Homo sapiens: one gene and its partners. The protein of the gene in region 1 interacts with the protein of each later gene in a pairwise test. Each region holds a gene or a part of one and is shown in the gene's direction. Other genes may lie near its edges.

Region 1 (4,090 bases):
ATATCATGGCAGGGATAATTTTTCTTTTACTTGAAGCACTCCCACATCACCTTTCTTTCTTTCTTTCTTTCTTTCTTTCTTTCTTTCTTTCTTTCTCTCTTTCTTTCTTTCTTTCCTTCTTTCCTTCTTTCCTTCTTTCCTTCTTTCCTTCTTTCCTTCTTTCCTTCTTTCCTTCTTTCCTTCTTTCTTTCTTTCTTTCTTTCTTTCTTTCTTTCTTTCTTTCTTTCTTTCTTTCTTTCTTTTCTCTCTTTCTTTCTTTCTTTCTTTCTTGAGATGGAGTTTCGCTCTTGTTGCCCAGGCTGGAGTGCAATGGCATGATCTCGGCTCACTGCAACCTCTGCCTCTTGGGCTCAAGCGATTCTCCTGCCTCAGCCTCCCAAGTAGCTGGGATTACAGGCACCTGCCACCATGCTCAGCTAATTTTTTTTTTTTGTATTTTTAGTAGAGACAGGGTTTTGCCATGTTGGCCAGGCTGGTCTTGAACTCCTGACCTCAGGTGATCCACGCACCTCAGCCTCCCAAAGTGCTGGGATTACAGGCATGAGCCACTGTGCCCAGCCCCCACATCACATTTCTATGTAAGTTAGCTATCCTGGTTTTCCTAGAATTATTTTTAACTTTTTTTTTTTTTTTTTTAAAGATAGGGTCTCACTTTGTCACCCAGGCTGGCATACAGTAGTGTGATCATAGCTCACTATAGCCTCAAACTCATGGGCTCAACCAATCCTCCTGCCTCAGCCTCTCCAGTTGCTGGGATTACAGGTGTGAGCCACCGTGCCCAGCTTTGATTTTTCTAGAATGATTGATATTTATTGGATGCTTTCTATATTCTGCACATTGTACTTAACACTTCAAAGATGATCTCATTTAGTCCAAAAAGTAATCTTCAAGGGAAGCACTGTTTTAAACTCCATTTTATAGATGATGAAATTGAGGCACAGTGAGGTTGATAACTTGCCCAAAGTCTCCCAACTAGGAGTGACAGGACCAGGACAGGAACCCAAAGCCTATGCTCTTAGCCATCACAGAGTACTGCCTTAATCAACACAAATCCCTGGGCTGTGAAAACTGTTTTACTCTCTACTGCATTCTGCCATCTTTTCTAATCTCACTTTTTTGTTGCTCAGGGATTCTTAATCTTTTTTGCACTATGACCTCCTTTGGTGGTATGGAGAAGCCTGTGGGCTCCTTCTCCAAATAATGTTTTTAAATGCATAAAATAAAATACTTAGTCTTGTAAAGGAAACCAATTTCATTGAAATATAGTTACCTTCAAAGAGCCTGCAGGGGTCTATGTACTGAAGATGAAGAACCCCTGACTGGCAATTACTTGTGTTTGCTTTAGAGCTGTGTTGTCCCTTGCGGTAGCCACAGGCCACATTTGACTGTTGAGCACTTGCAATGTGGCTAGTCCAAAGTGAGATGTACTGTAAATGGAAAATATACACTGGATTTCAAAGGGCTTAGTATAAAAAAAGAATAAAAACTGCCTCATTAGTTTTTTTGTGGATTACATTTTGAAATGGTAACACTTTGGATATATTGGATTAAATAAACATATTACTTCAATCAAAATGATTAATTAAATTATTGATTTATTAAAAATAACTCCTAAAGATGTTAACTCTGTACCAACACCTTCCTTATAACAAATGAGGAAATCAGGACCAATGATGCTTGTCACTCAGCCAGCCATTGGCAGATCTGTTGGCTCTCGAGCCTGTCTTCTTTCCAAGATATGGTACTACTTGTATATATTTTTGTATTCAAAGGTCCTATCATGTTGCCTTTGCAAACTGTAAATGCTCCAAATATGTTTTAAAGCAACGGTAATCAACTTAATCCCAGCAAAATCCCGGTACAAACTGGCAGTGTTCTTGCCTGGCATGTCCTTTGCCTTGCTTATTTAGAGTTTTAGTTTTGTAGGTAGAGATGGAGAATGGGCACTCCTAGGGCAAAATCCATGAATTTTGCTGTCTGGTTCCCCTCAGGAAGCGCCTCCAATTTGAGCACCTAACTATATCAATAACCCTATAGACCGAAGAGAAAAGCTTGGTAGCCTTTCTGTTGAGCGTGTAGAGAAGGGTATGATAGTCAGCAATGCTTGTGCTGCCTGAAACTGAAAATGGAAAACTGTATGTGGGAGATAGATCATTTTTTCAACGAGCACATATTGATTGACTGCCTAGCCACAGGGTAGGCAGTGTATATTTGGAGCCAGGGAAGATATCCAGAGGATTTCTGTGTCCTCGAGGAATTTAAGTTAAAATTGAATGGGGCCCAGATGTACACACAGATGGATAAATCACAGTTGGAAGCAGTGCATGAAGATGGCCCGATGAGGGGTAGAGGTCCCACAGTTGGTGGGAACTGAAGGGAGTTCTGTGTGTGCAGCGTTCCAGGGTGCAGTGCCCAAGATGGTTATGGAGTATGGCTTTGGAGCACATGGGTAGTTGGGTCTGTTTCTTACAGGATACAGGATAATAGATCATTTAGTCTATTCCTCTGCTCCTAGGCATATGCTCTATGTGTGGGAAAACCTTGGGTGCTTGTCTGGGCACGGTGGCTCATGCCTGTAATCCCAGAACTTTGGGAGGCTGAGGCAGGTAGATCACCTGAGGTCAGGAGTTCGAGACCAGCCTGGCCAACATGGTGAAACCCCATCTCTACTAATAATACAAAAATTAGCTGGGTGTGGTGGCACACGCAGCTACTTGGGAGGCCAAGGCATGAGGATTGGTGGAACCCAGAGGTGTAGGTTGCAGTGAGCTGAGATCACACCACTGCACTCCAGCCTGGGCCACAGAGTGAAGCTATGTCTCAAAAGCGAAACGAAACAAAAACAACTCAGGCATTTATTGGAAGGTCTCTATTGATGTTTTATTAGTTTTTTTAAAAAAATAAAAATAGAGATGGGACCTTACTATGTTGCCCAGGCTGGTCTTGAACTCCTGAGTGAGCTCAAATGATCCTCCCACCTCAACCTCCCAAAGTGCTGGGATTACAAGCATGAGCCACCACATCCAGCCAATGTTTTATTAGTTTCTACTATTTATTGATAAGGGTAGTAATATCTAGGTATACAAACCCTTATCCAAAACCCCTGGGGCCAGGCATTTGGAATTCAGATTATTTCAGATTTTGGAAAGTAGTAATAGAGTGTACATTCCGCATTTCATCCAGTGGGATCTGGGATAGCAATCTTTGTAATTAAAAAGTTAATATTTCTGCAGCAAAACACACAAAATGGGATAAATTAAAGCCATGAACAGCTTTATATTCATGTTGGTCATGTTTAGTTGCCAGATGAGTTTAGATCATGTCACATTTTGCTGCCAAACAAGTCATGGAGAATTTTCAGCTTTCAGATCACATAGTTAAGGATATGGATCTGTGGTAATAGTAATAGTAATAAAAATAATAATACTAAAACACCAACAGAAAGTATTCAATAATATTGGCACTTATTATCTTCCAGGTACTGTTTTAAGCACTCACCTGTGTTTACTCCTTTAGTCTTCTAACAGCCCTTTGAGGTGGGTTCAGTATTATATCTGTCTTGAGAAGAATAAGAAGCACAGAGCAATTAATCACTTGCCCAAGGTCACAGCTGGTAGGACAGAACAGAATGCAAACCTAGACGATCTTGTCCAGGAGCTTCGTACTTAACCAGTGCCTTGTTTTTTGGAGTAGGGAATTGGAAGCAGGTGTGTCTCTAAAGTTAACTCTATTATTTAGATTAGCCTGGTCTAAACTCACATTACGCTGTTCATTTCTTTTAGATAAACTCATCCTGAAAGTCGCTGTTGTTCTCCTGCTGAGCAAGAATGGAGGCCCCACTGGTGAGTCTGGATGAAGAGTTTGAGGACCTTCGACCCTCCTGCTCGGAGGACCCGGAGGAGAAGCCCCAGTGTTTCTATGGTTCATCTCCCCACCATCTCGAGGACCCCTCCCTCTCCGAGCTTGAGAATTTTTCTTCCGAAATAATCAGCTTCAAGTCCATGGAGGACCTCGTAAATGAATTTGATGAGAAGCTCAATGTCTGCTTTCGGAACTACAACGCCAAGACCGAGAACCTAGCTCCCGTGAA
Region 2 (3,760 bases), on another chromosome or scaffold:
CCTCCCAGGTTCACGCCATTCTCCTGTCTCAGCCTCCCGAGTAGCTGGGACTACAGGTACCTGCCACCATGCCTGGCTAATTTTTTGTATTTTTAGTAGAGACGGGGTTTCACCGTGTTAGCCAGGATGTTCTCAATCTCCTGACCTCGTGAGACCTCATACAAAAAATTTACAAATTAGTAGGTAGGGCCAGGCACAGTGGCTCATGCCTGTAATCCCAGCACTTAGGGAGGCCAAGGCAGGGGGATTGCTTGACCAGGAGTTTAAGACCAGCTTGAGAAACACAGGGATACCCTGTCTCTACAAAAATAAAAAAAAAATTGGCTAGATGTGGTGGCACGTGCCTGTGGTCCCAGCTACTTGGGAGGCTGAGGTGGGAGGATCTCGGGCCCAGGAGGTCGAGGCTGCAGTGAGTCGTGGTCATGCTGCCGCACTCCAGCCTGCACAACAGAGTGAGACCCTATCTGAAAATAAAAAATAAAAAATAAAAAAAAGCCAGGCATGGTGGTGCACACTTGTACTTGTAGCTACTTGGGAAGCCAAGGTGGGAGGATGGGTTGAGCCCAGGAGTTTGAAGTTGCAGTGAGCTATGATCACACCACTGTACTCCAGCCTGGGTGTTAGAGCGAGGCCTTGTCTCAAAAAAAAAAATAAATAAAATGCCATTTTGTCCTGTCTGCCCAGGGGTCTGTCCTCCAGCCTCAGCAGATGAGACTTTTACGCATCATCTTCAGCGACTGAGAAAACTCATTAAAAAGCGCTCTGAACTGTATGAAGCTGAAGAGAGAGCCCTCAGAGTTATGCTAGAAGGAGAACAAGAGGAAGAGAGGAAAAGAGAATTAGAAAAGAAACAAAGAAAAGAAAAAGAGAAAATTTTACTTCAGAAACGTGAAATTGAGTCCAAGTTGTTTGGGGATCCAGGTATGTTGCTCTATAACCAGTGGAGAAAATGAAAATACTAGATTGACGCTCTTCTCATCACGGGTGATCTCAAGCTAAGAGGTGGTAGGCAACAAATGACACCTTCCAGATGCAATTCTGTGTCATAGAACTCATGGATACAGATAGAACACATTTTCTCATTCTGTCGTAATCATAGGCTCAGTCACCTTGCCTTGAGAAATACACTGTGGATATCAAGCATGATAACGTGGTATTGTGCTTTTCTCTTTCAGATGAGTTCCCACTTGCTCACCTCTTGGAGCCTTTCCGACAGTATTATCTCCAAGCCGAGCACTCCCTGCCAGCGCTCATCCAGATCAGGTCAGAGGGGCTGGCTCTCCATGTTGTCTTTCTCTTAGGTAGCAGGAAGCACTTGAAGAAGTGCTTACATTGTTTAGGTCTATTACTGTCTTTTTTTTTTTAAGTTCCATAAGGAACTTAAAAAAAACTATGGGTTTATAATGTTTCCATGTTTCAAGGATGCTGCATACATCTTGTTTAGTCCTCATTAGTCCTTGAGAAGTTGATGTCCCTATTTTTATAGGTGAAGAAAAAAACTCAGGTTGTGACTTGCCCTGTGTTAGTAGGCACATATGCAAATACAGAATCTGTAAATAATGAGGATTGACTTTATTTGTTATTTGGTTATCCATAAGGTTTAAGTTCTTCAGAGTTTTTCCTCTTTTTATATGTACATTTAAGAAATATAGTCATTTTCTTGATTCCTAGAAATCAAGTTCTGTAATAGATTAGTATATCAGTCATTTGAAAGCTAAGTCTTAGAATATGTAGTTGCTGAACATCTTATTTGGAATAAAACAGAAATAAATAGTTGTTCTATAATGTTCTTATTAAGGCATGATTGGGATCAGTACCTGGTGCCATCCGATCATCCCAAAGGCAACTTCGTTCCCCAAGGATGGGTCCTTCCCCCGCTCCCCAGCAACGACATCTGGGCAACTGCTGTTAAGCTGCATTAGTAAAGATGCTCCAGGAGTGTGGTCCAGCCAGCGCTCTTTCCAGCTGTAAATATTAGCGATGGTGCCATCTTTTGCTGTAGACTAAACTGCAACTTCTAAATTCCATGTGGCATTCCCCTACCCTGAAGTTATGCTTTCCTTCTGTGCTCTGTGCTGGCCAGAGGTGCCTCTTGAATCAGATTAATGTGGTTTTTCAGGAAAGGACTTAGGTGAACTGAGGTTTTTACCACAGGCAGTGAATGACCTTGGTTCACCAAATTTGCCTCTGTTTTGAGGGGCTTGGTCCAGAGTGACTTGTTAATTTACTCTAACTTCCTTGTGTGTTGATGGGTAAGTACACTCAAACACTGAATACAGGTGTGTGATGGGTAGATTTCACAGCCCTTCTACTAATAGTGAGTGTGAAGGCAAGCTTGATGCAAAACCTCCTGACCTTTCCTACCTGAAGAGCCCTTTGACTTCTAGGAAGAAAGGTCAAAAATGTTATCTTCAGTTGTGTTAATCCCAGTTTTAGTGCAGCTTAGGAGGCTGCTAGTTAGGAAGATGGCAGTGGCTGTAGGCTGGGTTGCCAGAAAAGATGGTGGCCTAGTCTTATTATTCAGATGGAGAACTTAGAAAACCTGAAGAGTACCCAAATTGGATTGTATTTTAATGGACAATGGCTGTATTTTTTCCATGTTAGAAGGATCCTAATGAAAGCACCTGTTATTTTTAAGTTTCTAAGGGTCTAGTTGTTCAGAATCCCCAAGGATATTTCCCTAACCTCACTCAGTCACATTGTAGGAGCCAGTGTAGCTATGGAATTATCTTAGGAACTCAAGCTTCTAAAACTATCCATGTAGTCAAATCTAGGGGAAAAAGCAAATAAAAATAGTAAAATTTGGCCGGGCACAGTGGCTCACGCCTGTAATCCCAACACTTTGGGAGGCCGAGGCGGGCCGATCACGAGGTCAGGAGATCAAGGCCATCCTGGCTAACACGGTGAAACCCTGTCTCTACTAAAAATACAAAAAAATATTAGCTGGGCGTAGGTGGTGCACACCTGTAGTCCCAGCTACTGGGGAGGCTGAGGCAGGAGAATGGTGTAAAACCCAGGAGGCAGAGCTTGCAGTGAGCCGAGATCGCGCCACGGCACTCCAGCCTGGGAGACAGAGCAAGACTCCGTCTCAAAAAAAAAAAAAGTAAAATTTATTTTTTATATTCATTAATAAATGCTGTTGTGCTTGGAGATGATCACTCATATAACATGTCATTTTTTTGGTTCTGTTTTGGTTTGGTTTTTGCCAATTATTTTGTTATATTTCCAAAAAACTAAATAAAAATCATTTTTATTTTTTAGTTTGTGCCTTTGCTGCCAATTTGTTGCCTTCCAAATCACTTAACACACACTTTCACATTGATGAAACATATTTTCATTCAAAAATTCAAATTTATTAAGCAGGCATTTGTTACAGGAATTTGAATCTTAAATGCTAAACTTTATCTGCAAAATCCAAGTCTGGATTGGTAAGGATACCATCAATTTTGGAAATAATGTTACGTACTGTAGTTGGAAGCTTTTGGGTGCAAGATACTAATGGCTTTGTCCCTTTTCTGTTGTTTAATTTGCATTAATTTATACATTATATAGAGTCAACAGATAGGGAATGAGGGCCACATGTCTCCAAAATGTATGTCTACGCTTATAAATCTTAAAATCTGATATGATTACCCTCATAGAGCTCCACAATCCTGTGTGCCTTTTTGTTAGATATCTCCACCATTTGCTCTCTGATGAGATGCAGGAAGAGTAGAAATAAGGTGAATTGTACGATGTGTGTTTGGTGTCTGGACAGCCT
Region 3 (3,795 bases), on another chromosome or scaffold:
ATTGTGCTACTGTACCGCAGCCTGCGTGACAGAGTGAAACTGTGTCTCAAAAAAAAAAAAAGAAGTTTTAAGTGATTTTTGTTAATATTACTCTACTTTACCAAAGTGAAGTCCAGTTTCTTTTCACAGAGCTGTAAATACTCAGATAATTAGTCAATTCAGACAGAATGAACAAAAAATGCTCATAATCCTTCCCATCCAGGGAAAACCCTGTCAAAACCAAGGTGTTTGTCTTTGTAAATTAATCTGACTTTGAAGAGATGGTTTTGCTTGGATTTCTACCTATGAGTCAAAAAGTCTAGGGTTTGTATTAAGAGCTTCTGTATAAGAGGTCTAAAAATTTCAGCTTTACTGAAATTGAAGCAAAATAAACAAAATGTGATCTAACAAAATGAAGAGCCAAAAGTCTGAAGTGCTCCCTTCCCTGGCCAGTACCAGATGATGACCTGCTCTGGGAGAGGCCGGGCCTGGCCGGGCCGCACGCTCTCTGTTCTTTGGCTCCTGATGTTGGGTAGGCAGGACTGAAGGAGGCAGTGTTTGCATGCAGGACATGGGGGCTGAAGTGGCCAGGGCTGATTGAGAAGAAAACTCGACCTAAATATTTGAAAGCATGTATTGGAGCTAAACCGCGTACTGTGTGGTTCTGTTCTTTTCCTAACTTGGGAATAAACTATTATTTCAGCTTCGAGTAGAGAGAGAGAAACAAACCTGGACGAGTGTTCCTGGCCGCGGTCTCTGCAGTCTGGGTTTCCCAGTCTCCAGGAGATGCTGGTGCTTCAGGCCACCTTGCCACCAGTGGAGGAGCTCCCAGTGCGCCTGGCCTGTTGGCACCATGGTGCTGGACCCACCTCTGGGGTGGTTGTGAGGGGCAGGCTCTCAATACAGTACTGACTGCTGCCTGAAACCGGGTTTACTGCCTTGCTGTGGTCTGAGAGGCAGCTGATCTGGCAGCCCTGTTCTTAGGCCCTGGGCACTACCCCTGGGTGCATGTAGGAGGCCTCAGCTGTGCATTTGAATTCTGTGTAGATGAGGGTGAAGCTTCTTATTTTTTATTTTATGTTTAGAGACAGGGTCTTGTTCTGTTGCCCACGTTGGAGTGCAGTGGCGTGATCATGGCTTACAGTAGCCTCAAACTCTTGGACTCAAGCGATCTTCCCGCCTCAGCCTCCTCCCAGCCTCAGCTGGGAATACAGGCACGAGCCACTGTGCCTGGCCCATGGTGAAGCTTCTTGATGTGCAGCCGTGGGCGGGGATGCTGAGTCTAGTTGGTTATGGTGTGCACTAACCAATGGCTCCGGTGTAGGACCCACCTAGAGCATCTGAGGATGTTATGCTTCAGGCCAGCCAGTCACGCTGGAAGGGAGATGAGACCCCATCTGAGCAGCGTTTTAGAGATTTTAGAGAAAGAGGATCTTCCTTATTCCCTGTGGACAGAACAGAATCTGCCTTCAGGGACGGACTGCTTTTATAATTCTAGTGGTTTAAAAAATTAAAATTTCAAGTAAAAAAGATAGTTCTTTTTTTTCCCCCCTTTTTTTTGAGGTGGAGTCTTGCTTTGTTGCCCAGGCTGCAGTGCAGTGCGGTGATCTTGGCTCACTGCAACCTCCACCTCCTGGGTTCAAGTGATTCTCCTGCCTCAGCCTCCTGAGTAGCTAGGATTACAGGCACCTGCCACCACACCCGGCCGATTTTTGTATTTTTAGTAGAGACGGGGTTTCACCATGTTGGCCAGGCTGGTCTTGAACTGCTGACCTCAGGTGATCCACCCGCCTCGAACTCCCAAAGTGCTGGGATTACAGGCGTGAGCCACTGCGCCAGGCTAAAAGAGATAGTTTTAAGGTTATAATCTGTTTTTTTGTAAGTTTGATATACTATGATTAAATAATAACAGCGGTAAATAAACACTTTGAAAAACAGGCAGGGCTGGGTGTGTGGCTCACACCTGTAATGCCAGCACTTTGGGAGGCCGAGGTGGGTAGATCACGAGGTCAGGAGTTCGAGACCAGCCTGGCTAACATGGTGAAAACCCATCTGTACTAAAAATATAAAAATTAGCCAGGCGTGGTGGTGCGCGCCTGTAATCCCAGCTATTCAGGAGGCTGAGGCAGGAGAATCTCCTGAACAGAGTCCTGCTCTTCTGCTCAGACGGGTGCAGTGGCATGGTTATGGCTCACTACAGCCTCGACCTCCTGGGCTCAAGCGACTCCCCCACCTCAGCCTCTTGAGTAGCTGGGACCACAGGCATGTGCCACCATGCCCTGCTAATGTTTTTATTTTTTGGTGAGATGGGGTCAAGCAATCTGCCTGCCTCGGCCTCCCAAAGTGCTGAGATTACAGGCGTGAGCCACCATGCCTGGCCTTACATTGATTTATTGTTATTTTTTCTTTTCTGTTCTTCTTTTTTTTCCTGAGATGAAGCCTCGCTCTGTTGCCCAGGCTGGAGTGCAATGGCATAATCTCGGCTCACTGCAGCCTCCACCTCCCAGGTTCAAGCGATCCTCGTTCCTCAGCCTCCCGAGTAGCTGGGACTACAGGTGTGTGCCACGGTGTCTGGCTAATTTTTGTATTTTTTTTGTAGAGATGGGGTTTCACCATGTTGTCCAGGATGGTCTCAAACTCGTGACTTCAGGTGATCTGCCTGCCTTGGCCTCCCAGAGTGCTGAGATTACAGGCGTGAACCACCGCACCCAGCCCTATTTTTTCTTTTCACTTCCTCTCTCCAGCATACATCAGTTTTTATTAACGGATTGAGTTGCACCTGTATAGAATGACATTTTTTTTTTGAGACGGAGTCTTGCTCTGTCACCTAGGCTGGAGCGCAGTGGCACGATCTCGGCTCACTACAAGCTCCACCTCCCGGGTTCACGCCATTCTCCTGCCTCAGCCTCCTGAGTAGCTGGGACCACAGGCGCCCACCACCACACCTGCTAATTTTTTGTATTTTTAGTAGAGACGGGGTTTCACCATGTTAGCCAGGATGGTCTTGATTTCCTGACCTCGTGATCCATCTGCCTCTGCCTCCCAAAGTGCTAGGATTAGAGGCGTGAGCCACCGAGCCCGGCCAGGAGGACATTTTGTCTTTAGTCTTAAAGGAAAAGGGAAAGTCTTTTCCATTTGCACCAGTTTGAAATTAGGGCTCCCTTAACATGGATTACTGCAGGACTCATTCACATGAGAGTTCATACATGGGGTGAAAAGACAAACAGGGTTTCCTGATAACTCTTTTTGGTTATTGCATGAAATGAGGGATAAATACACGCATAATCTGTTTAACAAAACTCCTAGGTTCATCAGAATGCAAAGTAGAAAGTGTCTTAAAAGAGACTGTGATCAGCAGGCAGACGGCCTGTGTCGGTTTGGTTCCTTTGACTGCTTCAGATCTTCTAGGAGGAGCTCCTCTACTACGAGAGCCTGGACTTCAGCCTCACGGACAAGAACCTCAGATAGGCAAGGCTTTGTGATGGGTGCTCCTCCTACCTTCATTCGAATGAGGTTTTCCTCCCGCCTTCACCCTGATAGGGTGCTCCTCCCGCCTTCACTGGTGTCATTTTATTTTGAGTTTAAAAGGATGAACTGGTCTTGGTCAGCCTTAGGAAGGGAAGCATCACTCAGGTGAAAATACGTGGCGAACTTTAAATACCTAGATATTCTCCTCATGCATTTAAATTAGAGTGACTTGAGCTGTTAGAAAAGTTGACTGGGTGCGGTGGCTCAGGCTAGTAATCCTAACACTGGAAGGCTGAGGTGGGTGGATTGCTTGAGCCCAGGAGGTCGAGGCTGCAGTGAGTTGTGATC
Region 4 (3,795 bases), on another chromosome or scaffold:
CTCCCACCTCGGCCTCCCAAAGTGCTGGAATTATAGGTGTGAGCCATCCCACCTGGCTAAAATTTATTTTCTTTATACATGTATAGGTAAACTAAGTAGTATGTGTAGAATAGAGCCATTGTCTTTCTGCTGTACACTAAGTTAGGAATCAAATTTCTTAAGCCATTTTGTCAATTATGTATATAAAAACCATTGGTGCTTTAGAAGCAGATATTTCATTAACTTTTTTCTGATTATATCATTGTACATCATCAGTTCAGTCTAAAAAGGAGTTTTTTTCATATGTATTATAAAATATTTCATGATATTTGAGTTTAGTATGCCTTTAATCCAGTTGTAGATGTTAAAATAGGAGTAATTTTGTGTTCAAAATAATGATCTTCTGAAAAGTGAAATTCTAGGAAAGAGTCCACTGTTTAAAGCTAGCAGCTGGTGGCCGTGTGGCCGAATAATGTCCCAGGCCAGGGCACTCCCCTCTCAGATGGTTGGTCATGCTGCGTCGGAGATCAGGAATCCTCAAGGAACCTTTATGTTATAGTTGTACCAGTGCTTTAAACATAATGAAAGGTGCATTTGTTTTATTTTACCCATCTATAAATTGTGAGAGGTTTGGCTATGGAGAGTCTAGTGAGCTTATTGAACAGCATAAGAAGATAAGTGTGTGTGTTTGTGTGTGTGTGAGAGTGTGTGTATGTGTGTGTGAGGGGGAGGGAGAAGTTATTGTGCTTTCCAACATATAATAAATTGCTTACTTTGATCACTAACTGTTAGGTAAATACTGATGATTTCTAGCATAAGTCTTTTTTCTTTTTTTTGGAGACAGGTCCTCCCTCTGGCGCCCAGGCTGGAGTGCAGTGGCCCAATCAGCTTACTTCAGCCTTGACCTCCCTGACTCAGGTGATCCTCCCACCTCGGCCTCCCAAAGTGCTGGGATTACAGGCATAAGCCGCTGTGCCCAGCTGATATAAGACATATTTTTAACCAACTTTAAGATCTTAGTTTTTTTTCAGGATGGTTATAAGCGAAGGTAGAATTGCAGAAAGACTTTGTGGTAAATATTCAGGATTCGGCTCTGTTGCCTTACAATTTGTTAAGTGCATGATGGAAAAATAGTTGAAACAATGCAACAGCTGTCTCAGTTCTGAAAGTTAACTCAGAAATGGCAGAAAGCAAGGTCAGGCATGGTGGCTCCGAGCACTTTGGGAGGCCAACGTGGGAGGATGGTTGAAACTCTGTCTCTATGAAAAATATAAAAATTAGCTGGGCATGACAGTGCACACGTGTAGTCCCAGTTACTCAGGAGGCTGAGTTGGGAGGATCACCTGCGCCCAGGAGTTTGAGGCTACAGTGAGCTATGGTGGCACCACTGCACGCCAGCCTGGGCGGCAGAGCAAGGCCTTGTCTCAAAAAAAAAAAAATCATAAAAATAAAGCAATGGTAGAAAGCAGAATTTGACCTTTCAGTTACAGATGAGGAACAAAGTGAGGAGAGGCCATTTTTTGGTAAAAGAACCATCTGGCGGGACGCATTGGCTCATGCCTGTAATCCCAGCACTTTGGGAGGCCAAGGCAGGAAGATCACCTGAGGTCAGGAGTTCGAGACCAGCCTGGCCAACGTGGTGAAACCCCATCTCTACTAAAAATACAAAAATTAGCCGGGTCTCATGGCAGGCGCCTGTAATCCCAGGTACTCGGGAGGCTGAGGCAGGAGAATCACTTGAACCCGGGAGGCAGAGGTTGCACTGAGCCGAGATCGCGCCATTGCACTCCAGCCTGGAGGACAAGAGCGAGACTTTATCTCCAAAAAAAAGAGAACCATCCAAAAATTGCTCAGAGGTCAAGAATTTCAGAAGAAAATACAAAAACTTTGGCTGAAGAAGATTTAACTAGTGCTATAGAAGGCTTAAGAAGTGTGGTTCTAGCACTTTTCCAACTCATATTTGTATCAAATACCAGGAAAAATAGTTATCACCATTTATCATCTAGATTTCTGGGCCGTTTTACTGTTTTGTCATTTTAAGTTGTTTTACACGTAATTTACAGAAGTAAGAATAAAGCAATAATTTAAAACAACTTTATAAGAAATTTGATCCAACCTCTTTGTATCAAGTAAGTTTTGACACACAAACATTAGAAGTGTCCTCTTAAGGAAGTGGATGGTCCAGGTTCCTTTGAAGTGTGATCATTCATGTGAGCGGGCAGCTGATTGAGACTACTGTGTCCCCTTTTCGTCCCTCACTTCCTCTTGATTCTGAGAAGATTGATCTAGGGTATTGTCAAATGAAGACTTGTCTGAGATTTTATTTTCACGTCAGTTTTGCCATCATCATTGGCCATGGGTGCTCTCTCTCTGCATTCATCTTGTGACTCATCTAATGATCCCGAAAAGTCGACACTGTCATGTTTCTTTGCTATTTTGGGAAGAAATTGAAATGTTCTTAGTGAATCATCTTGTTAAAGCAAGCTAATCTGGGCACTGTGGCTCATGCCTGTATTGCCAGCATTTTGGGATGCTGAGGTGGGAGGATTGCTTGAGCCCAGGATTTTGAGGCCAGCTTTGGAACATAATGAACAGAGACCCTGTCTCTACAAAAAAATAAAAAATAAGCTGGGCACAGTGGCGCATGCCAGTAGTTCCAGCTACTCAGGTGGCTGAGGCAGGAGGATCACTTGAGCCCAGGAGGTTAAGGTTGCAGTGAGCTGGGATTGCACCACTGCACGCCAGCCTGGGTGACAGAGCAAGACCTTGTCTCAAAAAATTAATTAAATTTCTTTTTTAAAGTAGAATTCATGGCCGGGCGCAGTGACTCACACCTGTAATCCCAGCACTTTGGGAGGCCGAGTTGGGCAGATCACAAGGTCAAGAGATTGAGACCATCCTGGTCAACATGGTGAAACCCCGATTCTACTAAAAATACAAAAATTAGCTGGGCATGGTGGCACGCGCCTGTAGTCCCAGCTACTCAGGAGGCTGAGGCAGGAGAATGGCGTGAACCCGGGAGGCAGAGCTTACAGTGAGCTGAGATTGTGCCACTGCACTCCAGCCTGGGTGACAGAGTGAGACTTCGTCTCAAAAAAGACAAAAAAGAAAAAAAAAATTAGCCGGGCGTGGTGGCATGCGCCTGTAGTCCCAGCTACTCGGGAGGCTGAGGCAGGAGAATTGTTTGAACCCGGAGGCGGAGGTTGCAGTGAGCCGAGGTCATGCCACCAGCCTGGGCGACGGAGTGAAACTTTGTCTCAAAAAAAAAAAAAAATTACAGGCTGGGCACGGTTACTCACACCTGTAATCCCAGCACTTGGGGAGGCCGAGGCGGGTGGATCACCTGAGGTCAGGAGTTCAAGACCAGTCTGGCCAACATGGTGAAACCCCCGGGAGGTTGAGACAGGAGAATCACTTGAACCCAGGAGGTGGAGGTTTCAGTGAGCCGAGTTCGTGCAACTGCATTGCAGCCTGGCAACAGAGCAAGACTCCGTCTCAAAAAAAAAAAAAAAAGTAGAATTCATTAAGAAGAGGGGCAGGAACATCATTAGGGAAATTACTTGCATTATAAAAATGTTTAGAGCTGGCCAGGTGTGGTGGCTCATGCCTGTAATCCCAGCACTTTGGGAGGCCAAGGCGGGCGGATCACGAGGTCAGGAGATCAAGACCATCTTGGCTAACATGGTGAAACCCTGTCTCTACTAAAAATACAAAAATTAGCTGGGCGTGGTGGCGGGCACCCATAGTCCCAGCTACTAGGGAGGCTGAGGCAGGGGAATGGCGTGAACCCAGGAGGCGGAGATTGCAGTGAGCTGA

What was found.
Region 2: the proteins of FEZ1 (region 1) and PDCD7 interact in a two-hybrid assay, tested with the Homo sapiens proteins (2 studies listed by BioGRID and IntAct).
Region 3: the proteins of FEZ1 (region 1) and BRD1 interact in a two-hybrid assay, tested with the Homo sapiens proteins (one study listed by BioGRID).
Region 4: the proteins of FEZ1 (region 1) and PCNT interact in a two-hybrid assay, tested with the Homo sapiens proteins (one large-scale study listed by BioGRID and IntAct).

What each region holds. Positions count from the first base shown.
Region 1 is NC_000011.10:125,489,515-125,493,604, reverse strand, and holds part of FEZ1 (fasciculation and elongation protein zeta-1), read left to right. Parts: intron 1-3,782; 5' UTR 3,783-3,827; coding exon 3,828-4,090. UniProt on the Homo sapiens protein: May be involved in axonal outgrowth as component of the network of molecules that regulate cellular morphology and axon guidance machinery.
Region 2 is NC_000015.10:65,116,879-65,120,638, reverse strand, and holds the end of PDCD7 (programmed cell death protein 7), read left to right. Parts: intron 1-684; coding exon 685-921; intron 922-1,175; coding exon 1,176-1,263; intron 1,264-1,798; coding exon 1,799-1,922; 3' UTR 1,923-3,260; downstream 3,261-3,760. UniProt on the Homo sapiens protein: Promotes apoptosis when overexpressed.
Region 3 is NC_000022.11:49,817,874-49,821,668, reverse strand, and holds part of BRD1 (bromodomain-containing protein 1), read left to right. Parts: intron 1-682; exon of another isoform or gene 683-835; intron 836-3,285; coding exon of another isoform or gene 3,286-3,447; intron 3,448-3,795. UniProt on the Homo sapiens protein: Scaffold subunit of various histone acetyltransferase (HAT) complexes, such as the MOZ/MORF and HBO1 complexes, that acts as a regulator of hematopoiesis.
Region 4 is NC_000021.9:46,330,361-46,334,155, forward strand, and holds part of PCNT (pericentrin), read left to right. Parts: intron 1-3,795. UniProt on the Homo sapiens protein: Integral component of the filamentous matrix of the centrosome involved in the initial establishment of organized microtubule arrays in both mitosis and meiosis. Plays a role, together with DISC1, in the microtubule network formation.